4 separate regions of the Homo sapiens genome follow, and regions 2, 3 and 4 are each linked to region 1. The links come from fine-mapping of genetic effects on gene expression. A gene starts in region 1. Each other region holds a variant in brackets. All regions are shown on one strand. Distances are between the middles of the regions. Region 1 holds the start of TNFSF8 (TNF superfamily member 8). Region 2 has its middle 49 kb from the start of TNFSF8. Region 3 has its middle 52 kb from the start of TNFSF8. Region 4 has its middle 28 kb from the start of TNFSF8.

Region 1 (8,108 bases):
CTATACTCCAACCTTTTGGAATGTAACCCTTTACATTCTCCCCTGGGGCTAGAGAAGCCCAGTCTCCTGGTTTACAAAACAAAGACGTCTCTAAGGTTGAGGGCTTCAGAGGCTTTTTGAAATGTAAACACCTACCTGTGGTGTTAACCTAGGAGTCTATCTCATTGTCTATCTCATTATGTATTCCCCTGTCTCTTGAGGAGATAAGAGAAGTTTTATTTTTTCTTCTTTTGCTTTGCTAGATTAATTGTGTGAAATTTCATCCTGACTTTGTAGTCTGTTGCAGGCTGCCTATTTGCATGTACAATTGTGCTTGCTCAACAGTAAATCATTTTTTTCTTTCCATATTGATGTAAAGAAGTGTCTGTTGGTAGGACTTTTAATTCCTCAGGGGTACACTAGTACAATCTCTTTGGAGACAGACTGACATTTATTGAAGCGAAAATGCACATTCCTCCTGGCTAACACGGTGAAACCCCGTCTCTACTAAAAATACAAAAAAATTAGCCAGGCGTGGTGGCGGGCACCTGTAGTTCCAGCTACTCGGGAGACTGAGGCAGGAGAATGGGGGGAATCCGGGAGGCGGAGCTTGCAGTGAGCAGAGATCGCGCCACTGCACTCCAGCCTGGGCGACAGAGCGAGACTGTCTCCAAAAAAAGAAAAAAAGAAAATGCACATTCCATTCCTATCACTAAAAATTTATTCCCCAGATATACTTGCAGACACGCACAGAGGGCACAAATTCTAGAGAAAACATTGATGTCTCTCACCAGGCACAGATAAATTATGAAGCATTTACACTTCGTACTATGCGACTCTTCAAAAGAATGAAATGAACTTCTATGTACTGACATGGAAGGATCTCTAAGATATACAGTGTGTTGTCAAGTGAATAAAGCAAGATGCAAAATTATGGGTTTATTATAATGACCCATGGGTTTATTATATATTATAATGTGTACTGTGTATTTGTAGATGCACAGATTTTTGGAAGGACACACAAGAATCTGTCAATGGTGGTTATCTCCGTGAAGAGGGATTAGTGGTTGGGTGGGGAAGGTGTGAAGATTTTTACTTTCTTTTCTCTTATTTGCTAGTTACTTTTCTTAAACCATGTAAGTATAGTATTTCCTAATATAAATATTATAAAATATATCAATATATTATAAAATATTAAATAACATAAAATATTATTTTATAATATAATATTTATAATATAAAATGTTTATTTTATAATATATTTATAACATAAAATGTTTATTTTATAATATATTTATAATATAAAATGTTTATTTTATAATATATTTATAATATAAAATGTTTATTTTATAATATAAAGTAATATTATTATATAAAATAGTATTTATTTTATAAATATGCTGGCTTAAATGTAAATAAAACAAAATACAACCACCACTGAGGCTTCAAAAATATCACAGGAAAGAAGTAAGTTCCATAGTAACTCAAAGACAGGGATTTTGTTGTTTTTTTTCAAGGCTTTAGAACAATGTCCTGCACACAGTAGATATTTAATAAATATTTGAGATAGAAACCTAAGTTCCTCCTTTGTCTCTCCCAAGGAGTTTAAGCTTGGAGTTATCTGATCTTCAAGTCAAACCTCAAGGCAAGCTTTGTTGATTTCCCTACACTTTCTCTGTCTTCTCTCCTCTGTCTCTTTGCTCATGCTGTTCCATTGGCTAGGAGTGCCTCTCCTCTGCTTTCCCTTCCCTGCCTGTTTGAAATTGTTCACATTTCTCAAGCCAACCTGAAACTAATCCCCAGGAGTTTTTCTTAAACCTGTCTGGAAAAATATATTCTCTCCTTAACTTGTGGTGTCATGGTATCCCTTTAATCACTCATTATATGTTATGACTTAGCTGTTTTAAATTTTGTCTATACACGTGCCTTGGGATAAGAATTGTGTGACTTCTTGTGCCAGTAAAACCATTCTTATGGTTCTCCACCCCTGTTCCCATCACATACAGAGTGCTAATTGACCATTAACTCATTCCATTTTTAATAATGGTGATGTGAGTCTAAGCTCCTTGGCTTTCTCCCATTGATTTCTTTCCTAGAGTTTCTTTTAGAGTCTCTTCACTTGTCTGAGTTCTTCCTGTTTTCAAGTCAGTCTACATTCCATCTTCCTATAGGAAACCCTTCCTGATAACTCAAGTTAATGGGAAAATGATGCTTTTTTTTTTCTTGTTAGGTCTTACAACAGTTAAGGTCTGAGGAATTTATTGAAAATGATATGTGCAATGCATTTGACACTTTATATACCACGGCTACTATTAACATGGCAAGCCTTAATTTTAAGGAAGCAACTGATATTTCCTGGTCTAAGAAATCACAGCACACCGCACTGTACAATCAGATTGCACAGTGAATCTTTTCATATCCAAACATGAGGGGTAAGTCAAGGAAGTGGATGCACAAGAAGATAAAGCTCCCAAGAGAAGAGTGGGTGCAATGTTTCTTAGTGCTTCTGTGGCTGTCTGTATTGGCAAAGGGGATGCTGCTTGCATCAAGCAATCAAGCAGTATTGGCTCTACCACTTTCTCAGGGTGACGTAGTTCAAGCCCTGTTCCCTCTCTGCTCCTCATTTTCCACATTTACAAAAATGAGGCAGAAAGATCTGCTCTGGTTCTTTTATAGAAGAAATCAATTCAACTAAAAGTTGGATATGAATGAGCTCTGAAGTTCTCTCTAGCTTTATATATCACCATCGCCACCCATTTTTCCACCATCTCTCTCTCTCTCTCAGCAGTTCTAGTTGGATCCTTTAACTAAAGAACTTCTTAAAGGACACTTCAATTTCTTTTCTTTGGCCATTGCTATAAAATGACATACCCTTGGTTCACTCCAAATTAGAATTACAGAAATTGCAGAGCCCCTGCAGAAGAAAAGATGTCCTAAAGTGTTTTCAAGATTATTATACTTAATAGATGTAGATAAGCCATTAAATTATGAGTTTTAAGAATTCCACTATCTAAATCAAATATTTGCAACTCCTTCTTTTCACTTTTGTAGAGATATGAGCTTCAAAGCTTCCATTTAATTTCAAAGCTTGATGACACTTGAGAAATAGATATCAAAGCCTTTTAAAGCCTAGTTCTTTCCAGCAATTGATAAGCTATAGAGTACTTGGCCTAAGAAAACTGAAGAAAAACCAGAATAAATTCAGCAGGATTATAATACCACGAAAAGTAGGCACTATGAAGTAAGAAACAGAAATATTCTCACTTTGGCAGGTCATGTGGGTGGGTGCAGCTCTTAAATTACCCATTAACAACTTCATCAAAAAATTCATGAGCAATATATGCTATTACTACAGCATTTTCTATATAATATATACTGGTAGATTCTCTGTAAACACCAATTTTCTAAAATATGAAGAAGCTTCCTCTTTCTCCTCCTCTTCTGTTTTCAGAAACAAATCTTACCATTTACTTCAAAGTAAATCTCCGAAGACAGTCTGACCCTGTACAGTGTGTACCCAACGATTGCTTAGTATTGTGAGGAACATCAGAGAGAACAGGTGCTAAAAACCTTTCAACTTTCTGCTTCTATGTGCTGTTTCTTTTTTTTTTTTTTTTGTGACGCCCTAACTTCTTCAAAGTTGTGGCTTAAGAGGAAGCTTTCGATTTGTCTTGCTGGCTTTAACACCAAAATGTCCAAAGCTCTAAGAAGCCATGGTCTTCTCTTTCGCCTCCTTTCCTTCTAGACCTTGGCCTCTGAAACTTAGCTCCTTGTATAAAACAAAAGCAAAAACAAAACTCTTGGCAATGGGTGAGGCCTCAGAAACCTCCAGGACACTCAGACTTAGGATATAGAACCTCAGAATCCAGTCTGAAGTCCTTGAAGACATGATAACAACTTGTGCAAATGTGTTATCAGGTTTCTCTATTGCTTCCTTCCTTGATATGGGTCTCTGGCTCATTAAGATTTAAATCTTAACTTTAAAAGGCCAATAGCTCCCCTCCACTGTTTTGCTCAGACAGATCTGCAAAGTTTTAAGATGATGGTCTAACAATATTTTTCTCAACAAGCCAAATTATTTTAGAGAGTTAAGTTCCTCTTTCTTTTCTCCCTTTCTCATATATATATATATATATAATATATACTGTATAATATAATATATATTATGTAACATAAGTGTATTACGTTATACAGTATATACTATAGTATATATATATATATAGAGAGAGAGAGTTTATTTATTTAATTTTATTTTGTGCTCTTAACCAACAAACGAATATCATTTGTTCCCAGGGCTCTTTCTCTCGGGAAAACAACAAGAAAAGGAAAGGGAGGAAGAGGAGTCCACTTACCGTCCTCTGAACGACCAACACCATAATAGTGGCCACCGTGAAGACAAGGCACAGAGCCAGAGTGGCTGTGGTCAAATAGAAATAGCTGCGGCTCGTGGTCCCCAGGTGGCTGGCCACGGAGCCCGCCGGCACATGCATGGCTGTGTCTCCAGGAGGGGCCATTCCGTTGAGTGCTTGCTGCAGCCCTGGGTCCATTCTTTATATAGTCTTCCCCACATCACACCTTATCTCTCTTCATCTGATTCAGTTCTGGGCCCATCTCTGTTCCAAGAAGGATTCTCCCCCTGAATCCTGAATCATGTGACTTGGAAAAAAACCTTCACCTGCTGCCTGGTGGAGAAACTCTTCTCTGGGGGCGTGAGGCGAGAGGCGGCAGCAAGGGTGGGGGAGAGGTTCATTTTTCATTGCCAGGGATTAAGTTGTGTGCAGAGAAACTAGCTACAGAGAAGGTGGCTGATGTCAGAGGGCGCGTAGGAAAATGACGGTTCCCCGACTGTGTGTGTGTATGTGTGTGTGTGTGTGTGTGTGTGTGCATGCGTGCGCACACACAAAGCAACTTCTGTTTCGTTTAGACTCTGCCACAAAACGCCTTCCTGTTCAAGAAGCTGCACCTTCTTTCAGCGAGGCCTGTGGCTCAGAAGACCTCCCCAGATAATGAGTCCTTGCTGGGTCTCAGGGAGGCCGGATCCCTCGGACTGCAGTGTAATAACTCCAAAGGGTTCGGTTTGATAGGCTACTGCTGAAAAAGGGACATGCTGCAGGTTCCCTGGGGGAAAAAGGGCACACAAATGGAGATATTTCTCCAAAGGGGGACTGGCTCATGGCAGTATGAAATTTGGGGTTCAAAGATACTGTCAGAAAGCAGGAATCTGGAAATATCAATCTTTTGAACAAACACTCCTGCAGAAGTTTTGGGATCTGTTAAACTGGCAGATGAACCTGGACCTGCCGTAAAACTCATGAAGAGGGGAAGGAATTGGCAGTGAGATGGTGTGGTGTGGAATATGGGGGCTGTGTGTGTTCTGCGTGGTGTACTATGTAGTGTGTGTGTATTTGTGGTATGGGGGTATGTGTAGGTGTTGTGTGTTCTCTATGGTATATGTATGCAGTGTGTGTGTGGTGTGCATTTGTGATCTGCAATGCATGCCGAGTGTGGTGCGTATGTAAGTGTTGTGTGTGGTGTGTATGTATGTGTTGTGTGTGGTGTGTTGTGTCTTGTGTATGTATGTGTTGTGTGTGTATGTGACTACTATAATTGAACCTCTACTGTCTCAGGCACAGCGCTAGGAGTTACATGTGGCTTCATTCCACTTCCACCTCCACCCTCCGAGGCAGGCAATGTTTATTTTTTACAGATGGGAAAACTGAGGCTCAGGGAGGATGAAAACTATCTCAACCTAAGTCGCAAGTGTCGATCACTGAAAGAACTTGGGTGCACTTTGCAGCCTGCCTGGCTGAAAGCTCGTGCTAAGTCATTCAATCTTCACTGCACCTGAAAGCTAAAACCTGAAGTGTGGTCTCAGCCCTTTCCCTTCTTAGCCTTGGGCCATCATACAAGTCTTTATGGCTTTCTCTGTTCCCAATCTGCATTACAGTCATCAGGAAGACCAAGCGAGATGATGTCAGAGTACTCCATGAATAAAAATAGATTTGGGGATGGTGTTGGACAATTCCTGTTAAACATCCCAAGCTGTCTACTGGGCTAAGTCTGGAATTTAGATACAATAGACAGATTACCTGGGGGACAGAGTCAGATCACATCTGTGGTTACTAATGATCTCCATTTCAAAATACCGTTTAAAATGTTAATCACTGCATAGCTGCTGCCTCCAGATGTGGGCCTTTGAAAGCTCCATTTGGTATCACCGTGGAAGAAGCTCATTCTGCATAGCACCTCCTTTCCTTTCTGCTCACTTTTTGTCTGCAGCGCATCACTTTGAGCCAGCAGAGATCCCAGATGCCCCTAAGGAAACGTCCTGTGTCTAAAGCCAAGCTTGGATTATTACCACTGCTGTTCTTGCATAGAACCAAAACTTCTGAGCATCTCCCAAATTAGATCAGGCTTTAGGATTTGGTCTGGATATTTCCTCCCAGTGAGTCTGTAAAAGCATAGATCCTGGAGACGAAAGAGACATCAAGAGATAAATTGTTTTCTTGGGCTAAATAGAGTGGGGGGCGATATACCCATTTTACAATCAAGGAAACCGAGGCCCCCGTGATCCCAATTGAGTTTGGTTTTGAAAACAGTGTGTTCACGTTCGTTTGGTCCGGTAATTAAGGTGGGAACGAGGCAAGCCAGTGTTTTCTGGGGCATGTACCTGGCTGATTTGGGGAGAAGGCTGTGTCCTCTGGTGGGCACGGACAGTGAGTGGGTAGCAAGGGCTCTGTGGTCTGCCCAGAGTTGCTGAGAACCAGCTGCTCCCTTGGCCCTCTTGTTCAGCCTCTTTGATCAAAGTGGAAAACTTCTGATTGTTGAATGGAAGCTGTGGGTGTTGAAAAATAAAAAGGCTTTGCTTGAAGTTCGGGTCTTCCTGAAGGCCTGTGGGGCTGAGAAGGGCAGTGGAAAAAAATGTTTGTCTTACAGTTACCCGTTTTGCATACAATACAATGTCCTGGGAGGGAAGGCTGACAAGGGGGAAAAATCACCCTTTGTTTTTACTCAACTTTCTGAGCAGTTGAGATTTTCGGATCAGTTCCTAGTACAGTAGTTTGTGGGCTCAATTCATTCTTTTGCTGTGACACTCCTCTACTCACAAACCTTCAGTGGCTCCCTATTTCCCACCCCCATTGCTCTAAGCCCCTCTCTGCTTTCCAGCTGTTCTAGAATCTAGCCTGGCCAACATAGAAATCCATGACCTGTGCTAACTGGCTTCTTTCTGTCTTCTACTCAAGCTGTACGATGTGCAGATGGAAGGAGCCTTTATAGAATTTCTTGTTGAGTAAGTTTTAAATCCTTTCTGGAAGCAAAGCTGTATAAGGAATATAAAAACATAAGAAAACAGGGCTGCTTTGGCTGAAGCACAGGTGGGACAAAGAGAAGGGCTAAGCTTCACCTGCTCATTTGCCCTTTTCTGGCATGGGGTCTCTCCAAGGTGAATAAAATTTAGAAACTTCAGAAAATTTGGCTTGAATCCTTCATTCCACAAAAGGAGGAAACTGGGACACAGAAATGGGAACAACTAAAGGAAGTACATACCATCAGGGAGAGAGACAGGTGTAAGAGTCCCTTCTGCTCATTCTCTCTCCTTTTTTTTTTTTTTTTTTTTTTTTGACTGAGTCTCGCCCTGTCACCCAGGTTGGAGTGTAATGGCGCAATCTCGGCTCACTGCAACCTCTGCCTCCTAGGTTCAAGTGATTCTCCTGCCTCAGCCTCCTGAGTTGCTGGGATTACAGGCACACACCCCTAGGCCTGGCTATTTTTTTTTTTTTTTAATCTTTTGTAGAGATAGGGTTTCACCATGTTGGCCAGGCTGGTCTTGAACTCCTGACCTCGTAATCTGCCTGTCTCGGCCTCCCAAAGTGCTGGGATTACAGGCATGAGCTACCGCACCCAACCCCCTCTGCTTGCCCGGCCCTCTCTGCTCATTCTCATGTCGGCTCTGCTAATATTCCAGGTGCATCCAGGCTTCCTCTCGTGTTTTACTTGGCTTTCCACTGCTCCTGTTCTTCCTCTCCCTTCCAGCCTTTGCCAACCCGCCTCACCATCTCCAGGAATGCTTGCCCAGATCTCTCAAGTCCACCAACACCCTCTCTGGAATGCCTCTATTTTCATGCCAC
Region 2 (8,108 bases), 48 kb before region 1:
CTGTTATTTTAGCTTTCTTTACTCATGTGCATTGGTTTCTGGCTCTCTTACTGATTTCTTAGCCCTTTGTTTCTGGATTTTAAATGATCGTAGGATACCCTAATTTGTCCACTTCAATGATTCATTTAACTAATATTTAAAGTCCTCCTCTTAAGTGTCAATGTTGAGCTAGGTTCTGGGGATTCCAGATATAGTGAGAGAGTTGTGGGTCCTAGAGTATGTAAGAGAGAATAGAGAAGAGAGGAGGAGAGAGAGAGAGGAAGAGAAAGCAAGACCAACCAATAAACCAACATAATCCAATTTTTTATTTTAAGATGATTCTTCTTGGTGTGTCAAAAATACACCAGGGGTGAGGGAGGAGGCAGCAAGAAAGAGATAAGAACAGGTGGGAGCCTATTCCAGCAATACAGGTGAGAATGATGGTGTGGATTACAGTGTTAGCAGTAGAGATGATTCAAGAGAGGAAAAATGAGACAGCATATTAGGTAGTACAAGCCACTTACTGGTTGCCTAGATGCTGGATATTAGTGAAAGGGAGATTTCTGGTTTGATCAACTGAATCGATGGTGATAAAAGTTACTGCAGAAACCCAGAAGAACCGAGGTAAGTGGGGGAAGATGTTAAAATAATGAGTTTTGGGCATTTAAAATTGGCAATATCAGAAAAAAATGTTAAATAGTTTTTTTTTGACAGAGTCTTGCTCTGTTGCCCAGGCTGGAGTGCAGCGCTGCAAACTTGGCTCACTGCAACCTCTGCCCGCTGGGTTCAAGCAATCCTCATGACTTTTCCTCCTGAGTAACTGGGACTACAGGTGCACACCAACATACCTGGTTAATTTTTGTATTTTTGGTAGAGACAGGGTTTCACTATGTTGGCTTTGTATTTTTGGTAGAGACAGGGTTTCACTATGTTGGCTAGGCTGGTCTCGAACTCCTCACCTCAAGTGGTCCTCCCACCTCAGCCTCCCAAAGTGCTGGGATTACAGGCACAAGCCACTGTACCCTGCCAGAAAGTGTTAAATAGTTGAATTAGGAAGATTGGAGCTCAGAGGAGTTATCTGGACTGGAGATGTAAGTTTGGCAGTTGATATGGTTAGGCTATGTGTCCCTTGCCAAATCTCATCTTGAATTGTAGTTCCCATAGTCCCTATATGTCATGGGAGGGACCTGGTGGGAGCTAATTGAATCATGGGGGTGTTTACCCCCACACTGCTGTTCTCATGATAGTGTGTTAATTCTCACCAGACTTGGTGGTTTTATAAGGGGCTTTCCCCCCTTTTGCTCATTCTTCTCTTCCCGCTGCCATGTGAAGAAAGATGTGTTTGCTTTCCCTTCCACCATAGTTGTAAGTTTCCTGAGGCCTCCCCAGCCATGCTGAACTGCAAGTCAATCAAATGTCTGTCCTTTATAAATTACCCAGTCACAGATATGTCTTTATTAGCAGTGTGATAATGGACTAATGCAGCAGTTACAGCCGATAGATGGCACTGGAAGCCATGATCATAGAAGAGATAATGGAAGAAAAAATCCTCCCAAGAACGCTAAGTTCAGGTAGATGAGGAGGAAATGGCCAGGTAACTAAGAAAGGTGTCCTAGCGAGGTGGTATATGCAAGCCCAGAGAAAAGCATGTGCTAGGCACTGTGACAGACACTGGGAGGCTGAGTAAAACAAAGACCAAGTGATGTCCATTGGATTTGAAAACATGAGGTTTGTTGATGGATGATTGTAACAAGATCAGTTTCCACTGGGTGTGGAGGTGGAAGGCAGAGCAGAGAGCATCATTGAGAATAAAAGGATGATGCTGAAGTTCTCTTCTGTGTTATGCTTCTAGTTTTATTCTGCTGCGCCCACCATAGTGGCAACCTCTGTTGTGCATTTTGTGTGTGTCTTTTTAAAATTTATCAAAAAATACACAGGTAAATATCCAATTCCTTCTCTATTTTTTAATTTTCTAGAATAACATAGTAAGTAAAAGAGGAATAAGGTGAAGTGAGAATTTACACATATTGTGTAGATATATTTCTTGGTGAGTTTGGCTGTGAGTAAGGGATAGAGAGATGGTACAGAAACTGGAGGGGTGAAGATTTGCCTTTTCAAAAAGGTAGGCAGTAGAGCATGTTTGCTTGCTGATGGGAGTGGTTTTGTAGGGAGAAAGGAAGGACTGACTCTATTCCAGGAGAGAACATAACTAAGGAGGTACAGTCTTTTAGAAGGCAGGGATGAATTCATGGGATGGAATTCAGTGCCCAAGAGGAGAGTTGGCCTTCATTAGGCCTGGGGACACATCCTCCACCATAACAGGTTAAAAAGAAGAGAAGGTGAGTACAGATATTGTAAGCTTGAGCATGGGTGGTGAGAAGCTCAGAGTTTGCTTCTGGTGAATTCTGTTTTTTTCTTAAGTATGAGGAAAGAAATGATATATGTAGGAGGAGATGTGGGAGAGAGAAGTTATTCACCTTGGGGAGTGGGAAGGTGATCCTGTCAGAGAAAGATGATCAGCTCTCTGTGCAGTGGTAAAGCCCTACTAATTCTTGGGATCACCACATTAACAAGAAACCCATCATCTCAGTTGTGCAATTGTTTCCTCTAGCAACATACAGCTGCTTGGGGTCAGCCTCAAGGAGGAAGATGTCTGGTGTTTGCAGGAAAGTATGATGAAGGAGGATATGAGTGAATGAGTTGGTAGGATTTGCCAGGAAGTAACTGAAATGATTATTCATGAAATCTAGGATGAACAAGAGGGAAGAGAAGTCAGGAGAGCCATGAGAAAATTGTGGGGACAGGAGGATGACGTCAAAGATTTGTGGTGGGAGTGGTGGGGCTGTTCTGCAGCATGTGATCTGGACTGATGGAAGGTGGTGGTCAGGGAGTGGGATGTTTAAGCTGACATTTCACAGGTGATATTGTTTCTGCTGATGAGAAGATTCAAGCTGTGACTGTCGGAGTGGGCAGATGAGATAGAGTGGAGGAAAAGGTGGAATGGGAATGGCAACACCAGGGTGCTGGATGTTGAGACCAGTGATGATAATGACAGGAGTTGGGGTGGACAGAAAACTGAGCCAAGAGTTCAGGTTGTCAGGATTAGGGGTTGTGGTCGGGATGTCAGTAGTTTATAGCAACAATGAGAGGCTGTGAGTTTGCAAGAGCTTGAGTGTTTTATAAGAGCAAGGGGGAGAGATAGTATATACGGAAGAAGAAATGCAGAGCACAGACAGCTACCCCATCTCAAGACTATGAGGTTGTGAGTTATGAGAAAACAAACAACCTTCCTTTTGAGAGGGCTACAGGAGAAATGCTGTCTCAGAGAACAGCCAGATTTCAACTAAGGCAAAATATGTAAAAAGAACTTACTAAGAAAAGGGTGGAAATTTAGGGTGTTTGCTGATCCCAGAGCAGGCATCCAGAGGGTTACAGTGAGAGGATTTGTGGGGCAGGAGTTGGGTTAGGTTAGAGTTAGGTTAGAGAATGTTACAAAGCACCATGAAGATGTGAGTCCCCTTACTCAATGTTTTCACTGTAGAACCAAGCTTACAAACTAGACTAACTCATGGGTAACTGGCCATTCTGTAGGATTGGTTAGGAGTAATCTGTTTCTGGTCAAATTCTCTAAAAGTCAGGCCGTGATGATGTGAATATAGAGTGTGGCTTTCTATGCTTAGGAAGTTACCCAGAACTATTTCCCTCAGCAAGGGTTGTGGACAGGGCAGGTACTCCTAGGGCAAATGAATTCCTGTGCAAAATGTAACCAGTTCCAACCCCTTTTCAAAGCAGAATTTTTCTCTATGGCATGGTCAGTATCTTGTGTTTAAACATATTTAATTAATGTGACATTATTAGTAGAGTCTAGTTCATATTAGTGTTGGCAATTATCAGCATAAATGTATTATTATGTTATCTTAAAAAGGCCATATAAAATGTCAATAAAACACCATTTCTCCCTTTAGATTAGCAAAAGTAATAAAGATTGGTAGCATCCATTGCTGGTGAAGGTGTGGGAAATGGATTCCACTATATACTACTGGATGGGTACTGAATTGTTTCAAAATTGTGGAGAATAATTTGTGACATCTGTTACAATTTCAAATGCCCATATCCACTGACACTGAATTCCACTTTGAGAAATCTAATCTACAAAAAATTCTCATTGTATTTTAGGTGCATAAAGTTATATTTTGGGGAATGCTGATTGTAGTACTGTCGAAATAGCAAAAAATTGAGAATAGCCTGCTTGTCTATCAATGGAGGAATGGTTTTAGAATTATGTCTTTTTACCAAGAAATGCTAGACAGCCAAGAATTTGATGCACGACAATTATGGTAAAAAAATTTGCTTGTTCTACAGAAGATCATTAATGTTTTGTGACTATATAAGCTGTAACAGTGGATTGTTTTCATGTGTAGGTGCTATTGTTAAATACAGGGACTGTTTCCAGGTACAGAATATGAATCATAAGTTTGGGTGGGCCGGGCACGGTGGCTCACTCCTGTAATCCCAGCACTTTGGGAGGCCAAGGCGGGCGTATCACGAGGTCAGGAGATCGAGACCATCCTGGCTAACATGGTGAAACCTCATCTCTATTAAAAATATGAAAAAATTAGCCAGGCATGGTGGCGGGCACCTGTAGTCCCAGCTACCCAGGAGGCTGAGGCAGGAGAATGGCATGAACCTGGGAGATGGAGCTTGCAGTAAGCCGAGATGGTGCCACTGCACTCCAGCCTGGGCGACAGAGCAAGACTCTGTCTCAAAAAAAAAAAAAAAAAAAAAATTTACGATGGACATTGGATACGATTGTGATGAAGGTCTGCGGTCCTAGAGCTACAGATGCATGGTAAGAAATTAG[A/G]ACAAACTGGAGATGGGCCATGGACTCTGCCTAGGAGTGTTAGGAAAATACTTTGACTCCAAGCCTTAAAATACTCACATGGAGTTGGCGCTCACCTCATTCACACAATCATAGAGCTCCCTGGACACTGAACCTCTAAAGGGAAAAGGTCTACCTTGGAGCAGGAGCATCAGGGTTTGCTTGGGAGCATGAGAGTCGAGCTCAGGGCTAGGCCTGGGCCAGGCCCCGGCAGCACTGCTACTTGGGAGGAGCCACTTCACTTTCGTATTAGTTATTAAAAATAGAATTTAGGCCTGGCACGGTGGCTCAAACGTGTAATCCCAGCACTTTGGGAGTCTGACGCGGGCGGATCACTTGAGGTCAGGAGTTTGAGACCACCCTGGCCAATATGGTGAAACCCCATCTCTACTAAAAATACAACAAAATTAGCCGGGCCTGGTGGCACGTGCCTGTAATCCCAGCTACTTGCGAGGCTGAGGCAGGAGAATAGCTTGAACCCCGGGAGGCAGAGGTTGCAATGAGCCCAGATCACGCCACTGCACCCCAGCCTGGGCAGCAGGATGAGACTCCGTCTCAAAAAAACAAAAACAGAAACAAAAACAAAAAACATAGAATTTGGATCCTTCGGTCAGGTTCTCCGAAATTCTTTTGAGGTGTCCATGGTCAACTGCTTCAGCTTTGTTTTGGTAACCCCCTGTCTGAAGTTGCATACAGGCTGTTCTTCACCTTGTTTCCAAGGCTGAGGAACAGAAAGTAGCCTCTGTTTTGAAGAGGTGGAAGTTAAGTATACATTTATTTTTTACTGTGACTTGTTCAGGACCACATTTTACAAAATGCCTTGTTTCCTTTATTGTTTTTGCAAAGGAAAGTTCTATTAATATTGTTTTACTTTGAATATAGAATAGTCTTTTAAATTAGGGCTTATTTTGAAAAATTCTGACTTTAATTCAAATGTATGCCAATACCTTCCAAAGTAAGGTAATATTCAGAGACAGTTGTTTTGCTCAGAAGCTACAAATATTATTCTACCCATCTTTTTTGTTGACATATGACCTCACTTCTACAAATATGCCTCGGAGTAGCATGGTTGGATCATAAGGCAAGCATATGTTTAGCTTTAGTAGGTATTGCCAAACAGGTTTCCAAAATGATTGTAACACTTTCACTTCCTCCAGCAATATATGAGGTTTCCAGTTGCTTCACTTCCTCACCAACACTTGATATTGTCAGTCATCTCAATTTTAGTAACTTGGTGGGTGTGTAGTAGTTTTAATTTGGTGGTTATATGGCTTTAATTTGCATTTCCCTGATGACTAATGATACCATCAGGGAATCATTAGCTACTGGACATATGGATAGTGTGTTTTTTGAAGTCCTATTCAATTGTTTTGCTCATTTTAAAATTAGGTTGATTTGTCTTTTTAATTGATTTATAGGAATTTTTATACATAATATTGTGAATATGACTCCTTTGTCACAGAGCAAAGTTTTTTCCAATCTGTGGCTTTTCTACTCACTTTCATAATGGTGTCCTTTGATGAGCAGAAGGTCTTAATTGTAGTGAATAGCATTTCATTACTTTTATGGTTTGTGTCTTTCATATTCTGTATAAAATATTTTATCTATTTCAATATTATGAAAGTACTCTCCTATACTTTATCTCAGAAGCTTTATTGTCATGCTGTTTACATTTATATCTGTAATCTATCTCAAATTAATTTTTATGTATGGTGTAAGGTGGGGGAGTCAAAGTTGATTTGTTTTACAGATATAATTATTCCAACAGCATTTATTAAAAAGGGCATTGTTTCTACACTGAGACTTTTGTCACAATTCAGATGATAATACCTGTGTTGATTTATTCCATTGACTATATTTTCTATTCTTATGCTAACACCCACAGTATTTTGATTACCTTTGCTATATAGTTAAGTTGACATCTGATAGTAATGTTACTGGCAGTGAACCCATGTAGGTCTATAGAATCCTCAATTCTTGCCTCCTCAGAAGAAAGAATTCAACAGAGGAGCACAAGGCAGGAGAGACTGAGGAAAGTTTTAGAGCAAGAGTAAAAGTTTATTAAGAAACTTTAGAGCAGGAATGAAAGGAAGGAAAGACAGTACACTTGGAAGAGGACCAAGCGGGCGACTTGAAAGACAAGTGTGCGGTTTGACTTTTTGACGTTGTTTTACTTTGGCATACTTTGGTTTTATGTTTAACTTTGGCTTTATATGTTGGCATACTTCCGGGGTCTTGCGTCACTTCTCCTTTGATTCTTCCCTTGGGTTGGGCTGTCTGCATGCACATGCTTGAGTCCACTTTCCCAACTCCAGGAAGCTGCTGATCACTAGTTTCAGGTGTTTTCTATGTAGCAGGAGATGGCCTTTCCCTGGCACTGGCTGTGACCAATTATTATTTTAGAGAGACAGTTAACAACGGCCTGACCATTACTGACCATTACCTGATTGTCACCTGACATTCCTGATGTGTGTGACAGGAGGTGGGGGGGGAGTGTGAAGTCGGAGAGAGCCCTCTTCTACCCTGCTTATGCCTGATGAGCTACCTACTATAACAGTAAGACTTGCAATTTGCTCATTTTCTTCAAACCTATTTTGGCTATCCTAGGTTCTTTGTATTTCCAAATAGATTTTACAAACATTTTGTCATTTTCCATACAAAAAAACCTGTAGTGATTTTAACTGTGATAACATTGATTCCATGGATCAATTTGGGGAGGATTTACATTATTTTATATTTAATCTTCCAACTCATGTGTGTGCCATCTCTCTCCACTAGGTCTCTACTTTCTCTCAGCAATATTGTATAATTTTCAGTGTAGAGGGTTTTACATTTTTCATCAGATATATTCCTAGGTATGTGATATTTTTGAGTGCTATTGTAAATGGTTTATTTTTCTAAATTTTATTTTCTAGTTGTTTGTTGATAGTATAAGAAATAGAATTAAGCAAATAACACAGGAACAGAAAACGAAATACCACAAATTTTTACTTATAAGTAGGAGCTAAACATTGAGTCCACATTGACACAAAAAAAGGGAACAATGGGCACTGGGGCCTACTTGAAGGTGGAGGGTGGGAGGAGAGTGAGGATCTAAAAACTACCTTTGCCTAGTACCTGGGTGATAAAACGATCTTTGCACCAAACCCTCATGACATGCAATTTACCTGCATAAAAAACCTGCACATGTACCTCTGAAACTAAAATAAAAGTGAAAAAAGAAACGGAATTGATTTTTGTATATTTACTT
Region 3 (8,108 bases), 53 kb after region 1:
GCTCGTCCTGATCTGAGCTACCCTGTCTCTGCTCCAGTAGGGGAATGAAATCTTGAACAATTAGTTAAGCACAATAATTTATCTCTTTGAGGTATGGTCCTTGGGGCTCTGCAGAGCTCTCTCTGGAACATGACATTGAATCCCACTTATCCGAGTGAGTTAGGAAATAGAAACATATCCAGGTAAAGAAGACAAGGATGGAGTCCATGCTACATAAAGACCAGTGGAAGGTACTAAGGGCTGGCCAGAGAAGAGATGACTACAGATGGGCAAGGTCATTGTTTTTGTGTGTTTGAGGACTGTCTTGGAGAAGAGGGGATACAGTCGTTGTGTAACAATCCAAACCAGTGTATCTTAGGCACTGTATTTTAGGCTGTGTTCTGAGAGCTGGAGAAATAGGTGATGCAGTTCTTCTGCAACAGAGGATTTAAGGAAGCATTCCAATGTGGTCTAGTGTGGGCTATAATGAAGATTTGGAGGAGGAGCTCTAGGAAAACAAAGGGGCAAGTGAACTACTCTGCCTGGGGAAGTTGCAGTACATTTTATGGTATAACAGAATTTTTCTAGTTTTAGAAAGGTGACAAAGAATTCTAGGCAGGGCAGAAACAGCAACGTATACAAAAGTGAGAGGCATGAAAAGGAGGTTACAAAGGGCAGAAGATGCAAACAAGGCTGGAGATTTGGTGGTCTCCAAAGTGTAAAGAGTCTTGAATTCCATGTTAAAACATTTGGACCTATGCTATGGACATATTCTATAGAAAGTATCCATCTTGTGATGGAACTAGGTCCAATGATAGAAGATACAGCAATTGCCTTGGGAGATAATGACTGTCCATCAAACAGAGGCCAGTAAGCCCTTTGATGGGTATAGACTGAAGAGAAACAACCACATAACAGGGCATTTGTCTGGACTTTGTGATCTCACCCACCCTCTGGGAAATGTCCCAGACTTAGCTTTTCAGGAGGTATATTTGTGTATTTCCCTCTGCGAAAGACAGAGCCTGGAGGTACTATATATTTTTGCTTTCTAAGTTAGAGAACTTTTTAATATCTTGACAGCTTATACCAGAATTCATCTGTGAAGTGTATCTAAGTCTGCTTGGGCTGTTGTCACAGAATATCACAGACTGGTAGCTCATAAACAACGAACAGTGATTTCTCACAGTTTTGGAGGCTAAGAAGCCCAGGATCAAGTTGCTGGAAGATTTGGTGTCTGGTGAGGGCCTGCTTCCTCATTCATGGACTGCTGTCTTCTCACTGCATCCTCACATGGTGGATGTAGCAAGGGAGTTCACTGGGGTCTCTTTTATAAGGACACTACTCTCATGCATGAGGGTTCTACCCTAACGATCTAATAATCACCTTCTAAAGGCCCTACATGCAAATACTATCACACTGCAGATTTGGGTTCAACATATGAATTTGGGGAGGGGGCACTAACATCTACTGACATTAGGATGTAGTAGAAGGAGTCCTTCTTATTTGAAAGATCATATGTGAAGCCTCTCTGAGTAGCAGGTAAGACCCCAAAGGGGTTGTCAGGAGTTCAAGCAAAAGGAAAGCTATAGCTAAGCTGTCCAACCTGAGAATATAAGAGGAGTTAAGAGATATATGGGGAATAGGAGAGGTCAGTGGTTTACAAGGGGATGAGAGAAGGAGGGACTAGAAAGATGGTCTATGGCTGAGGACTCCACAGGGTAAACAGAGGTAGAGCTTTACAACAATATGCATTGTTGTGCAAGTTGCCTTTGCTCAACTGGTTGGCTGAGGCAGCTGGCTGGGTTTGCAATTAAACCAGTGTCCTGATCCCTAAGTCGTATTTTCTGGGTCTGCACTTGAAGGAGGTGTCCCTATGGCCTAGTAGTGACCCTGGGAAGAGCATCTTATGGAATTGCCTTATGATAAGGTGGTTGTTATGGATTGAATATTTGTGTCCACCTCAAATTCACATATTGAAATACTAATTCCCAATGTGATGGTATTTGGTGGCGGGACCTTTGAGGGGTAGAGAAGGTTAGATGAGGTCATGAAGATGGGGCCCTTATGATGGGATGAGTGCCCTTATAAAATAAGGAGGGAACACAAGATCTCTGTCTGTCTCTGCATGTGAAGATACAATGAGAAAGTAGCTGTCTGCAAACCAGGAAGAGTGTCCTCATCAGATACCAGCTTTGCTGGTACCTTGATTTTGGACTTCCTAGCTTCCATAACTGTAAGAAAATGAGTGTTTGCTGTTTATGCCATCCAGTCTATAGTAATTTGCTATGGCAGCCCAAACTAAGACAGTGGCCAAAGGAGGGCTTCACAAGGGGGATGCCTAATGTCCAATTTGAAGTTGTTGTGATATAATAATCCTTTTTCTAGCTACTAAATAAATCTTCAAGTAAGTGCACTATACTTATTAGCTCTTTGTGCAAGATGAGTGTATGGGTGTGTAGAAATTGAAGAAAGGCGGGGTTTCTCGTCTGGATTGTAGCCATGTGGACAAAACAGCATTTGCAGAATCAGAAACCTAGATTTGGAGACATCAGAATACAAATCCCCCATGCTCCCGTCTCCCCTTTTTCTTTCCCAGAAATCTGCAGGCTTTGGTCTTCCATGAAGCATGGAGTTGATCGTTTGAGCCAGCCTTATCTGGATTTTAAAGGGCAGGGAGGTAGCAAGTGACATCAGGATTACATTTTATTGTTTTAGTGCCTCCAGCGAGATGTCATGAATAAGTTTATTTTATGACTGTGTGTCTCTCGCTTAAGTAAGCTAATATTGCATCATGGGTAGTTTACACAAATCATTGTTTTAAGGATGCAGTTCAAAACAAAAATATATGAGCAAACTGAAATTCTTATCTCTAAGATCCAAAGGATAATAGTTCATTTATGCATCACATCTTCTGGAATGTATTTTTATAGACTGTAAATTGGATAAGATAGCTGAGTGCAATGCATGGTAGGGAAGGATAAATAATAAGAAGCTTTAGGTTCAAGACCCAGCTCATGCTAAGTTGCTGTGTGAATTTAGGTAATTGTAGTCCTCTCTGATATATAATTATCCTGTAATGTTGGAGTGTTGAACAAAAACGACCTCCAGGATCTGTATTAATTAAGACTAAATTAGTTGTATTAAA[G/C]GAAGATGGAAACGTCCTTCTTCCTCATGTAGAGGTCTCAAGATAGGCTATAGGTGTCTCTACTCCAAGAAATCCTCCAGGGTCCAGGATCCTTTATATTTTTCCTAAAGCAGGAAAACATACAAAGCCAAGCAAAATATCTAATGATTAAATATGTAACCTGGAAGCTGCACATAGTACTTCAGCTCACATTCCCTTGGCCTTAAGTTTGTCACATGGGCTCACCCAATCTGCAAGGTAGATTAGGAAATACAGAAATAGAGTCTATATTCTTAGCTGATATACGTTGCCAGCTAAAAACTGGGGTTCCGTGATTCCGAGAGAAGAGGATAATGGGTATTGTAGAACAATTAGAAGTTTCTGCCACAGGTTCCTTCCAGAACTAACAGTTTAAGATTCTAGGTGTTGTCAACAGTTTTGATGATCAGATATCAAATTACTCTCCATCTTTAGGGCCCTTTCTGCTGGATGATGGTTGAGATGACTTGATCACAGAATTAGCAAGTAGTTTAGACCAGTGCTGTCCAATAGAAACATAATATAAGCCACACAGAAATTAAAAAAAAAAATTCTAGTAGCCACAGTAAATAAAGGAAAAAGGAGCAGCTAAAATGAATTTTAACAATTAATTTTATTTCATCTAATCATGTAAACACTATTAACAAGTTATTTTACATTTATTTTTTCATACTGAGTCCTTGAAGTTTATTTTGTAGTGTACATTACAGCACATCTCAACTTGAACTAGCTGCATTTTCAGTGTTCAGTAACTCCACATGTCTAGTGACCACCCTGTAAGACAGTAAATTTGTAGACTGTGTTGGCTAGAATGATAGCAACACAGTGTACACCATAAATTTTTCTATTATAAAGGGAATCCACTAGTTAATTAATTTAGATTTAACTCCATATTATAATATTCATTAATATGAAAGAGAGCATCATCTTTTCACCTGAGGCTTTTCTATGAATAAGTTAACTATGGACTATTCGCTTTCTGGATCATCAGATCCAGCTAGTCAAGTCAGATCATCTATCCAACTAGTCAAATTGGATAGAAGCTGTTGGAGTCCAGCTCTGCCACTTACCAGCTCTGTCATCAGAAGTAAGCTGCCTAACTCTTCTGAGCCCAATTTTCTTTATCTATGAAAATGTCACATGTTAAAGTATTTTTTATCTGTATTTTTTGGAAGCTGGACTCAGCAGAAATAGCACTGGATAAAGAATAAAGAATTTGGATTTTAGGTTCAACTTTCCCCTGGTTCTGTGAAACTAGCAGCATCTTCTCTTTAGATCTTACTTTTTCCATTTTGAAAGGTGGGGTGGTATGTTAGGTGCTTATCAATTCCTCTTCCCTCTTTTCAAATGGAATCATTTGACGTTATACTAAAAGGTTCAGATTTCTAGGATATCATTAGGGAGGTAATTGCTTTCTCAACTTTCAACTACTCTTAATAATTCCATAAAAGGGAGAATTGGAATCTGGAAGGCTGAGGCAGCCATAGTAGCACAATATTTCTGAATTGATGCATTCTTTGGAAGAAAGAGTGGGAAGGATCAGGTAGAAAAATCTTTTATGGTAGTGACTGGTCCCTTAGCATAAACATTGAAAAAAAAATCCCAAGGACCCTCTATCAATTCTGTTGGAAATGTATATTGGGGAGTCTTTCTGAAAACGGATTTGGCAACATATATCAAAAGATAGAAAACATATATGTCCTTTCATGTAACGATTTTATGTCTAAGAATTTAAGGAAACAACCTGATGTTCACAAAGATGTATTGATAAGTGTTCATTGCTCTACGGCTGACAACATCAGAAAATCAGAAACACTCTGCCTGCAAAAAATAAGGACTTAGTTAAAAAGTTATGGTACAGGCATACATGAAGATATTATTAAACCATTAAAAGCCATGTTTTCAAAAAATATTTAATGATGTAGGCAAATGCTTTACTACAGTATTGACCATAAAACATCACTAATAATATGATGTACTCAGTCATATGGTCGGTCCCAGACTTCTTTTTAAGTTGGCCCCTTCCCAGGGGGTCCCCTCATGGTTCCTAACTTTATTTCTTGCCCTCTGGTCCCTGTTTCTCCTTTCCCTCTTCAAATGTCCTCGGAGTGAAACTTCATTTTCTTACAGGTCAGAGTCTCTTACCTTGATTTTTTTGATATTTTAGCCTGGATAATTCTATGTTGCAGGGGTGGTGGTCTGTCCTGTGCTATGTAAGATGTTGAACAGCACTCCTAAGCTATGTGAATTAGATGTCAGAAGCACCTTTTCCCGGTGAAGATAACCAAAAATGTCCCCAGACATTGCCAAATGTTTTCTTGGGGCTCAGTCACTCCTCCACGCTGCTACTGAGTTTGGTGGTTGTTTAAATTTGGTGATCAGGGACTAGGAACCAAGGTCCAATATGACTTTACCATTTGTTCCAGAAAATTCTTGCCCAGGAAGATAAAGCTGTAAACCAGTAAATAACTTCATTGTTAACCTCAGGCACTTCATGAAAACCCATTTATTCTGCCCAGGCCAATTGGATGCTCATCTGGGTAGACATCATCTCTCTTAAGACAACAGGTTGCCCAGCTGGAAAAACCCTCTTGCTTTATCAAACATCCATTTACTTAGGAAGACTACCTCCAAGCCTCTAGCCTCTCAGTGTCCACCAATCCTAAGATATCAGATGACAAAACCTGCCTGCAACACTGGAATCCAGACCCCCAAACCCTGGACCTCCTCTTTCTAAGACAAACTAAAACTTGTTCAAGGCAGTACTCTCCCATATTTGGTCAGTAAAAACTGGTCTTTGCTGATAAACAGTGGTCTATCTGGGGAATTGGCAGTCCCCCAGAGCCTTTCCCCTTTATTTATTTATTTATTTATTTTTTTTTTTGAGATGGAGTCTTGCTCTTGTCACTCAGGCTGGAGTGCAATGGCATGATCTCGGCTCACTGCAACCTCCGCCTCCCGGGTTCAAGCAATTCTCCTGCCTCAGCCTCCCAAGTAACTGGGATTACAGGCGCCCGCCACCAAGCCCAGCTAAATTTTGTATTTTTAGTAGAGACAGGGTTTCACCATGCTAGCCAGGCTGGTCTTGAACTTCTGACCTTGAGATCTGCCTGCCTCCACTTCCCAAAGTGCTGGGATTGCAGGCGTGAGCTACCGCGCCCAACAGCCTTTCCACTTTTAAAGAAGGGAACACAATTATAAAGCCCTCAACCCATGATGCCCACAAAAACCAGGAAGAAATTTTGAAACAGCCACTTTTCTGCATCTAAGGCCACATAAGATTCCTAGGCATGGTGTCCCCACACTGCACTCCATAAGTAGAAAGGAAGCCGCATGAGGATTTGTGTTCCTCCTGCCCACGGAGTGTGAGCATGTGTGGAAGAGGGTTAGGACCACAAGCTTCATAAGCACAGGAAGAAGAAAAGCACAGAAACACACCCACGCAAATACACACATACATACATATATAAACATAGATATATACACACATACACATAAGGTGGAATTATGGGTGATTTCATTTTTATATTTTTCCATATTTAAAATTTTTTCTTAATGAACACGTCTTCCTGTTAATAATTACTCTTCTAATCTTAGATGAAATAATATGTTAATATAATCCTATCTTGGAATATATCGGGAGGTCCAGTATATTGGCTTTGAGGAAGTGCCAAAGAGGTGGAAGGCTGAGTCCTTGGGATCTTCCTTTTTTCTACACGGCTCGGGAGACTGGTAGCAAACTCCGCTACAGAGTTGGGAGTGTATCATTTGTACCAAGTGTTAATTTGAAGTGTGAAAGGAAAAGATTATAATTACCTGTCCTTTTAAACTTATGTTTTCTTTAATAATCTCATGGTTACTAAGAAATACACTCAGCAGTGAGATGGGATGGATAAGCTAAGGTGTATATGACAGGAAACGATGTCCAGGCAGCAAAATTAGTCGTGCAGTTGTATGCTCACAGGCATCGATGGATGTCTAAGCTGAGTAAGTCCTTGATACAATAGGTCAGTTTAGTGATGAACCCTCTGGGTTTCACCTTGACACTACCACATGCTAATTTTGTGACCATGAGCAAAATGCATCACCTTTTGACTGCAGTTTCTTCACCTGCAAAGGTAAGAGACTTGTACCTGCTCAGTGAACCCCATGAGTTTGTTACAAAGACCAAAAGAGATGATCCATATATACATGCTTAGGAAGTAGTTCAAATGCATGGCTTTATGGGAATACCTCTCAATTTTTCAAGCACCTCTCTGATATTAACATAGATTATGATAAACAGCCCACATCCAATTTAAATGCTGGGGCTGTTAAGCTCTATGGAGTGCTTGAGGCAGAGGTGTAGGTATTTGGGGATCTCCACCTTATCTTGGGGCACCCTGCCCTGGCATGGCACCAGAGACCTGGCTACAGGCCCCTAGCTTACAGCCTGGTTCCCCCAGGGCTGAGTGCAATACCTAGGAGGAATGTTTAGGAATGCCTGCCACAGCTGCCCACCATCTCTTATTAACATTTCATGCCTAGCGTGTAAAACTCAAATTGAATTTTCCAGGGTGGAGTCAAGGAATTAAAGGAATGAGGAGCAGCAGATAGACAGATAAGCACATCTCATGCTTCCATCCATTATTTATTTATTGGGTGCACACCATTTTCTAGTAAATATTATCTCGTTTACTAGATGTTATCTCATTTACTAATACTCAGAGAAACACAAGTGAAGGTCTATGTGATTGTAGCCATTTACAAGCTCCATGAATGTGACCTAGGTCACAGAGCTCATCAATAGCAGAGCAAGAATTCACACCCAACTGTGTAAATTCCATACTGCCTTACCCTATCTATCTGACATTTGGGATTTGTATATTCGCCACAGTGGAGTAGCACAACATTAAGTAGTAGATTTTCTACTCTATTCTTTATATCAACTACAGGTGGCCAGAGGGCAGAGGACAAAGGAGGCAAA
Region 4 (8,108 bases), 29 kb after region 1:
ATTTTATAATTTTTGAGATTGAGTATTTTTGGAAATTAACTGCCACTTTATCAAGTTAAAAAACATGCTGAAGGTTTATAATGAAAACAGCAGTGCTCTGCCTATGAATCTCTACCTCACTTGGTCCTGCTCTCCAGAGAAATCACTTGGAACTGTGCTAGCTGTCTCTTCTAATACATGCCTCAGTATTTCTAGCAAATATGCTTATATTGTTATATATTGATTTATTAATATTAGACTTCTACTGATTTTCTGCTATAAAAGGAAAATTTAGATCTTCTATACATCTCTTCATTTCTCCTCTTGCTTTAATATTCATTTCACAATTTTTGGATAAATCCAAATCATTGTTTATGTTTTTATGATTATACAAAAATTATTTGCAGAGTCCAAGTAGTATACTAGGATCATATATTTTCTTGTCCAACTTTATTCTTCCTAAAATTGCCTGTTTACCTCCAGTTGGTGTTGTTTGTTCTACATTTATTTTTATCTTTTTTTCACCCATTCCATCAGATCACTAATTAGTTTTTCCTTTTAAATCAGGCGTTGGCAAACTCTTTCTATAAAAGATCATATAGTAAATATTTTTAGACTTTTTGGTCCAGACAGCCTCTGTTGCAACTACTCAACTCAGCTGTTAAAGTCATGGGCAATATGCAACTGAGCTGCAGACAATATGTAAATGAAGGGGGGCAGCTGGCCATGTTCCAAAAAACCTTTATTTACAAAAGCAGGTGGTAGGCAGGATTTGGTCCACGGACTGCAGTTTGTCAACTCCTAATCAAAATGATAAAATAGACCAGATATTATTTTTTTGTAATGCTTTACTTTCCCAAAGCCCTGTCCTAGAGCCCCCTTGCCTGCGTTGCTATCTGTACTGCTGGTTCTCTTTGTGTCCTACCCTGCTGGCATCCTGGAACTTCCCCCCACTGTTTTCCTGTTTTAGACCCCTTGTTTTTTGGACCTCCGCACTTCCTCTTTCTTGTTTCATTCCTTGGTTTAGCTGGAGGATATTCTCAAGTAACCTCCTAAAAAAGAGGGTGTAAAAGGGAGGTAAATTTTCCGAGTCTTTCTATGTCTGGAAATGTCTATATGTTCCTCTTATGTCTTTTGATAGCTTAGCTAAGTAATGTATTCCAGATAAAATATTTTGTCAGAATTTTGAAGGCTTTCTTCAGTTATTTTCTGACTTCTAGCATTTCTGGCAGATGACTGATTGCCATTCTGATTCCTGTTTGTATATGATCTTGATCTTCTTCTCTCCTTGCCCTCAACCCTTTGTCTGAGAGGTTTTAGGAACATGTCTTTATCCCTGGAGTTCTGAAATGCATGATCATGTACCCTGGCGTGATCATTTTCAATCTCATGTCTCACTTGTGTCCCAGTCTGTGTCTGATGTACGTGAGTCTGGAATTTCTTCAAAAGATTTCTCCAGATGCTAGCTTTCCTATCTTCTGTCTGTGGGGTTGCCATCAGGCTCTGTGGGGCCAAGGGAGGGAATCTACCAATTTAACTCTTCCTGCATTCAAATGTGCGGCCTCATATCTTGCTCCTTGCCTCTGTGGGCATCAGGTCTCTAAGAGCCACACTTTGCAGGTATGTGTAGGGTTCATGAGAATGATTATGTTCAACATTCTCCTCTCCAGGCTTGTTAAGTTGAAGTTTTCTCAACTTTTCAACAAAGTTGATTATTACTCATGTATCTATTCCCTGTCTTTCAAAATTTGATTAAAATTTGTTGTTCATTTATACCTTAAAATAATTTTTGGTTCATTTTATTGGGAGAAGAAAAAGATATAACTGCTTATGACCTATCTGTTGTGTTTAACCAAAGTTCACAATTTGTCTCTATGTATGTGTTTTTTCTTTTTTTTGAAATGAAGTCTCACTCTGTCACCCTGGCTGGAGTGCGGTAGTGCAATCTTGGCTCACTGCAACATCCAGTTCCCAGGTTCAAGCAGTTCTCATGCCTTAACCTCCCAAGTAGCTGAGACTACAGGCACCCACCACCACACCTGAATAATTTTTGTATTTTTAGTAGAAACGGGACTTTGCCATGTTGGCCAGGCTGTCTCGAACTCCTAACCTCAAGTAATCTGGCCTGCCTTGGCCTCCCAGAATGCTGGGATTACAGGCATGAGCAACCACACCCAGCCTATGTATGTGTTTAGTGGTCTAAAGCCTGTCTGCTTTCCTGCTAGGAAGAGGCTGTGTCTGTTTATTCACCCACTGTATCCATCACACCTGGCTCCAAGTGGGTATTCTACACATATTTGACAAATGAGGGACTACATATTGAGTGAAATGGTTTGAGGAAGAGGCCTCAGGTGGGAGCCCAAGGAGACGATGCTGGGAGACACTGATCCTGTTTTATGAAGAGCCTTGAGTACTCAGGGCAAGGAGAGTGAATTTTTTCCTGGTTGGGAGCTTGTTAGTATTTTTTCAGTGGTGGGAGAGGTGGTGATGGTAGGGTATTTTGATCAAAGCAATTTCAGAAATAACTTTTCTGGTTGTGGTATGAAGGCTAGTTTGAAAAGGGTACACATGTAGGAAATAAGATGCTATGAACCGACGAGAGCTTTTGAGAAAGGAAGAGTGGGACTGCAGAAAGTTTAGAGAAGAAAAATCAATAGGACTTTGGTTCTGATTTAATATAGGAGGTTAAAGGTGATTCTCAAAAACGCTTCCATCCAGGCATGGTGGCTGACACCTGTACTCCCAGCTCTTTGGGAGGCCAAGGTGGGCAGATTGCCTGAGCCCAGGAGTTAGAGACCAGCCTGGGCAACATGGTGAAATCCTATCTCTACAAAAAATACTGGTTAAGGACATGGTGGCAGGTGCCTGCAGTCCCAGCTACTTGGGAGGCTGAGGTGGCAAAGTCACTTGAGCCTGGGGAGGTGGAGGCTGCAGTGAGCAGTGATCACACCACTGCACTCCAGCCTGGACAGCAGAGTGAAACCCCATCTCAAAAGCAAAATAGAACAAAACATGATGGTTGTCTTAGCAGAAAGAAAGAATATGAAAGATTTTGGGGGGATGGGGAAGAATAGATAATGGTTTTCATTTGTCATACTTGAGGCAATAAAGGAACGTCCAAGTGGAAATGTTTAGCAGGCAGTTGGCTATATTAGAGGTGGGAAATGAAAACAGGTTAGAGAGTTGTTCTCGCAGAGTAATTCAAGAAGAGAATGACATGAAGAAAGATGATTACTTGCTTAAGGTCATAAAACTGATAATTGGCAGGGCCCACACTGGAAGTCAGATCTGGCTAAACTCATGCCTCATGTTCAACCACAATAGTGTTCTGACTCTACAACTTTGTTGAGATGCAGCCAGAAGAACAGAGACTTAGCACTGGCCTTGGGGAATACTCACATTTAACAAGGCAAATGACTTCTTAAGAATGAAGGTGCAAAATGCAATCGAAAGCTAATGAGGTATGAGGGGAGAATACTGATGCTCCAAGAATGCCCTAAAATCTGGACAGGAGGGTAGGAACTGGTACCTTGGGCCAGGCAGCTTGGCTAGGCCCATTTGGCTTTAGCGAGGGCTGAAGTCTCCCACAGGCGCCTCCTGCTTTCACTCTGAGGACTTCTCCAAGACCATCAGTTGCACTTTCTTTTCATACACTTTCCATTCTGCCCACTGCTATGGTTCAAGCCAGAGAAAACTGTGGCCAAGTAGCAATTCTGAGAACATAAGCACGGCTGACATCCTGCCTGGTTTCTTCCACTCTTGCTCAGCCCAGAGCAGCCTGAGAGAATTTTGGTGAAGTGGTGTTTGGGGATTTTCAGAAGTGCCCTTGCAGGGAAGGGCTCCTGGGCTCTTCTCT[G/C]CCCTAGACCCCCTCCCTGTCGCATGCCTTCGGGTTCATGGCATGGGCTGGGGGAGGAAGAGGAAGCAGATGCCATGAGAGTGGGGGCGTGGGCATGTAGGTTGTGAAACAATATGAGAAACCTCCAGAGCCAGCAAAGAAAGTTTTATTTTTGGAATTTGGAATTCAAAGTTTTTCACACTCAACATTTCTGTGACTAGCAGGTGAGATAAAAATCTATGTCATTCCACTGGTTTTCACCTTTGTTTTAAATTATCTGATTTTAAACAGAAATTATTATCAGTCTGATATTGTTTCCTTTTCTAAAATGTGGTTTAATTTCGTAAAGAGCCGAGTAGGACGGCAGAGCTGAATCATAGGAAATGTCAGCATGCAAGCTCTACACCCATGATTACAAAACGGTGTTCTAGTAACCTTGGTGCTCTCCTTGAAAAAGCGTTCCTTAATCCTAGGTTTTTGTTTTCAACTAGGCAAATTTTCTCTTTGTTTGTTCTACCATATGATGTCTTTAATTTCATGCGAGAGAACTAATCATGGATCCTGAGTTTGAATCCTACTTTCTCCTCTTCCTTCCTGGGTAACAGTGGGACAGTTACATAACCTCTGAGCCTTAGTTGTCTCCCTATAAATGCAAATAAGAAGATGGACGACACACACACACACACACACACACACACACACACAGACACACACACACAACTGGCACTTAGTAGGTGCTGAAATCTTCTTACTTCCTATCATTGAACAAGATTGGATAATTTTTTTTTTCTTTTGGCGGTCACTGACTCACCAAAGAAAAAAGAAAAAATATCAATTTACTGTATGTTGTTAAATCAGGAGAGACAATTGTGGGTGTTTGTGTTTTGGATCTTATTTTTAGACATTACAAAAATGTTCCATGCACTGGATTTTGAAATTAAGAATGAGGAAACATTATTTATATCTGAATCATAAATTACAACAAACGAAAATATTACACGTATGATTTCAGTTCTATATTACAGGTATTTAAAGGGAAGGGAGAGAGGGAAAAGGAAGGGAAGGAAAAAAGGGGAGGTAGCAAACATACAAAATTGGCAGAGATATGAAAGACATGGCAAAGGTAAGAGACAGTGGATGTAGGTGCCATTGTTTGCAGATAAATATTTTTGGTTTTCCCCTAATTAATACTTGATCTATGGGTGCTAGAGTTATGTATTTGCTGCTGTAACTTCTCTTTGAAACCCATCTATTCATCCATTCATTTATCTGCCCCCCTTTCATTACTGTTTGATTTAATAAACAACTACTCAATATATCCTTTGTGTTTGGCCCTTTCCTAGGTGCTAGCAAGGCAAGAAATCAAGCCAACCTTGCTTTCCCAGAGCTCATAGTCTTGCAGGAGAGACAGACAAGTAAACAAATAGCAGCAGAGAATAATAAGTGACTGACTTGGATTTGGGGTGGTGGAAAGTCTTCATAGAGGAGGCAATTCTATGCTAAGACAGTGTGGTGGGTAGTTAAGAGCACGGATGTTACAGGCAGATAGATATGGGTTTAATCCTGATTTACTAGTTGTGTGGCCTTGGTCAAGCTGTTTAACCTGAGTCCTCACTTCGTATTTAAAAGGAGGATAAAACACAGAAACATAAAGTTTAGGCAAATTGTGAATAATACACATAAAAGCTTTGTATGTTGCTAGGCACATGATAGACCCTAAAATTGAAACCATGATTTTCATTTCAAGGTACGGGATCTTTAGTTTATTAGAGTCTTAGAGGCACTCTGGGAAAGTTGGATGGGGTTGAGAGAACGTGTCTCTGTGGAAAAAAATGGGTTATGTACTATTACTGACTTTTCAACATTTCTGTTGAAACTTTTTGAAAACTTTTCTGAATCACAGTAGCTTAAGTATCAATGTTGAAACTTTGCTTTGGGGTGCATTCCCCTCTGTATTTCCTAAGGTTGGAAGAAATCAAACCAAGGGTGGGCGATTGACTATCTTTATCGTAGATTACCTCTTGGTTAAAAGACCCTAAAGCATTAACTCCTGAGATTAACTCTAAAGCATTAACTTCCAAAGCTCTTTGGAAGGCCATCAGCAACACCTGCAGTGCAAAGCTGTTGTCAAGCCTGTAATTATGAGTAGCACCAAGGGTACCAAATGGTGACGATATTCTAGATCTGGTTTCACTCTCTTAGCACAGACACTCATATACAGGATGTAGAGAAAGCAAGTAAAACCCTAAGATTAAAATAGAAATGGAAAGTAATCATTTTTTAACAAAGACCACTCTGAAGTTAGCTGTTTCTTCCACAGGAATAACATTAATCACTAGGGGATAGAAGTGTAATTCATATCAACTCATTGGCTCTCCAGTTTATAGTTGTTTCTTCTCATGTAATGGCCCCTGTAACGCAGTGGCCAGATTTCCTCGTTGTCCTTGTGCCCATGGCCACAGTTGATTCTAAGGCAGTTGTTCTCAAACAGGAGTGTGCATCAGAATCTCCTTGTTACAATAGAGTTCTGGATCCCATCACCAGTGTGTCTGACGCAGCAGGTCTAGGGTGGAGCTTGAGAAGTTTCATTTCAATAAGTTCCCAGGTAATGCTGATGCTGCTTATCTAGGGAGTGAGCCTTGAGAACCACTGACCTAGGAGAAGGTAACTGAGCTCTCTGTGTTCTTCCAGTGCACCCACCACCTTCCATCCTCATTCCAACCCCACTTTTCACATGTTTTCCAGGTATATTTTCCATTGGTTACAAATACAATAATTTTAATAAGTACTGGAGGGGAGCTTGTCTACAGCCTGGAGAAGAAAGGGAATCAAAGTGTGAGGGGAACATCAAGGTGTTCTCTAACATCAGAAATCTGTGTGTCAAAACAAGAATAGGAGGTAGATCTTTTCAACCTGCCAATTTTCCCTCCCTCAAAGGAAGACATTTTTAACAATTTTTAAATGTCTGAAAATAGGCAGCTTTTGGTTAAAGATGATATATTAAACAAATTCATTTATCCTTGCACCTTCTTAAATAACAACACAATGCTAGCAGCTAAACTTTTGGCATAGTGTGCAGCATAAACCCTCAAGGACAAAAAGAAGGGTAGAAGGGATGATAAGAATATTGAAAATAAGAAAGCAGATAGGCAACTGTTCCAACTGGCTTCTGTAGACCTGGGAATTCTGAGCTGTAAGCAGCAGAAGCTGGAGAGCGAGGGGATTTGCACACCAGAGCCCCAGAAAAGTTCTGGATTCTGGAACTTCTGAATGAGGTAAAATTGGGCCTAAAAGGAGGAGTGACTGAGAATCTGTATAAAGAGCAAGAGAACTTCTAGGTCCACCCTACCCACTACATCAGGTGATGTCTTCTCCTTTGCCCTGGCATGTAGCTGGAGGTTTACTCTCAGAAGGCAGTGAATCAGAAGAGCTCTGGACTGGTGGACACCAGGCACAGTTGGAAGAAGGGGTACTTTATAGAAAATGGTTGGGGGATTAAATGAAAGTCAACTTATGGAAACTTTACACTTTAGTCTTCTTCCCAACTTGAGCTCCCAGAATGTTGGCCTCCAAGTGTATGCCTTCCAGATTAGTAGCATAATGCTGCGATTTTAGAAGGTACAATCTTCTAACAATCTGTAGCTATTTTCACAAAAAGATTGAGGGAGAATGGAAGGGGTTTGTGGTGCAAGAGAGGCCTGCAGAGGATGTCCAAGCTGAGTTTAAAGTCAGCCATATTTACTGAGCAACTATTCTGTTCCAAATAACAAGCTGTGAGCTCAGATGATTCCCCAATAAGAAAGATTCAGTGTGCCCATCCCTCATTGAATTAGATGGGAAGGTTGGAGGAAGGAACAGTGCATACAGAGGGAGATGGTGGAGAAAAGACATGCTGAGTTTGTGGAACAACAAACAGTTCAGTATTGTTGGCATGGAAAGTATAGATGTGTAGGGAGTATGGGAGGGAGGGAGGGAGGCCTGAAAGATGCTGCTTTGCTTATGTCCCTCTCTTTCTTTGTATGTGTTCTGTCACAATGCATATTATTTTATATGCATCTATTTTGAATCTTCATAAATGTAATCCATTCTCATTTTTAACTTTTTTCATCAACGGCATTTTTTTTTTTTTTAGATGGAGTTTCACTCTTGTCACCCAGGCTGGAGTGCAGTGACACGTTCTTGGTTCACTGCAACATCTGCCTCCCGGGTTCAAGCGATTCTCCCACCTCAGCCTCCCCAGTAGCTGGGATTACAGGCGCCTATCGGGGGAACCCACCCCCAATATTTCAACGTA

Evidence for each region.
Region 2: its variant is fine-mapped to the expression of TNFSF8 in whole blood (INTERVAL, PIP above 0.99).
Region 3: its variant is fine-mapped to the expression of TNFSF8 in whole blood (TOPMed, PIP above 0.99).
Region 4: its variant is fine-mapped to the expression of TNFSF8 in whole blood (TOPMed, PIP 0.97).

What each region holds. Positions count from the first base shown.
Region 1 is chr9:114,925,778-114,933,885 of GRCh38, forward strand. It overlaps TNFSF8 (TNF superfamily member 8), which reads right to left and starts at 4,814. Exons shown (of 4, transcript NM_001244.4): 1 at 4,332-4,814. The coding sequence starts at 4,526. RefSeq lists an enhancer at 3,908-4,467.
Region 2 is chr9:114,877,895-114,886,002 of GRCh38, forward strand. No RefSeq gene overlaps it. Among named protein-coding and RNA genes, the nearest start is that of TNFSF8, 49 kb to the right of the region's middle. RefSeq lists a silencer at 2,435-2,729. The variant A/G (reference allele first, on the strand shown) is at 4,841.
Region 3 is chr9:114,978,558-114,986,665 of GRCh38, forward strand. No RefSeq gene overlaps it. Among named protein-coding and RNA genes, the nearest start is that of TNFSF8, 52 kb to the left of the region's middle. The variant G/C (reference allele first, on the strand shown) is at 3,125.
Region 4 is chr9:114,954,482-114,962,589 of GRCh38, forward strand. No RefSeq gene overlaps it. Among named protein-coding and RNA genes, the nearest start is that of TNFSF8, 28 kb to the left of the region's middle. The variant G/C (reference allele first, on the strand shown) is at 3,836.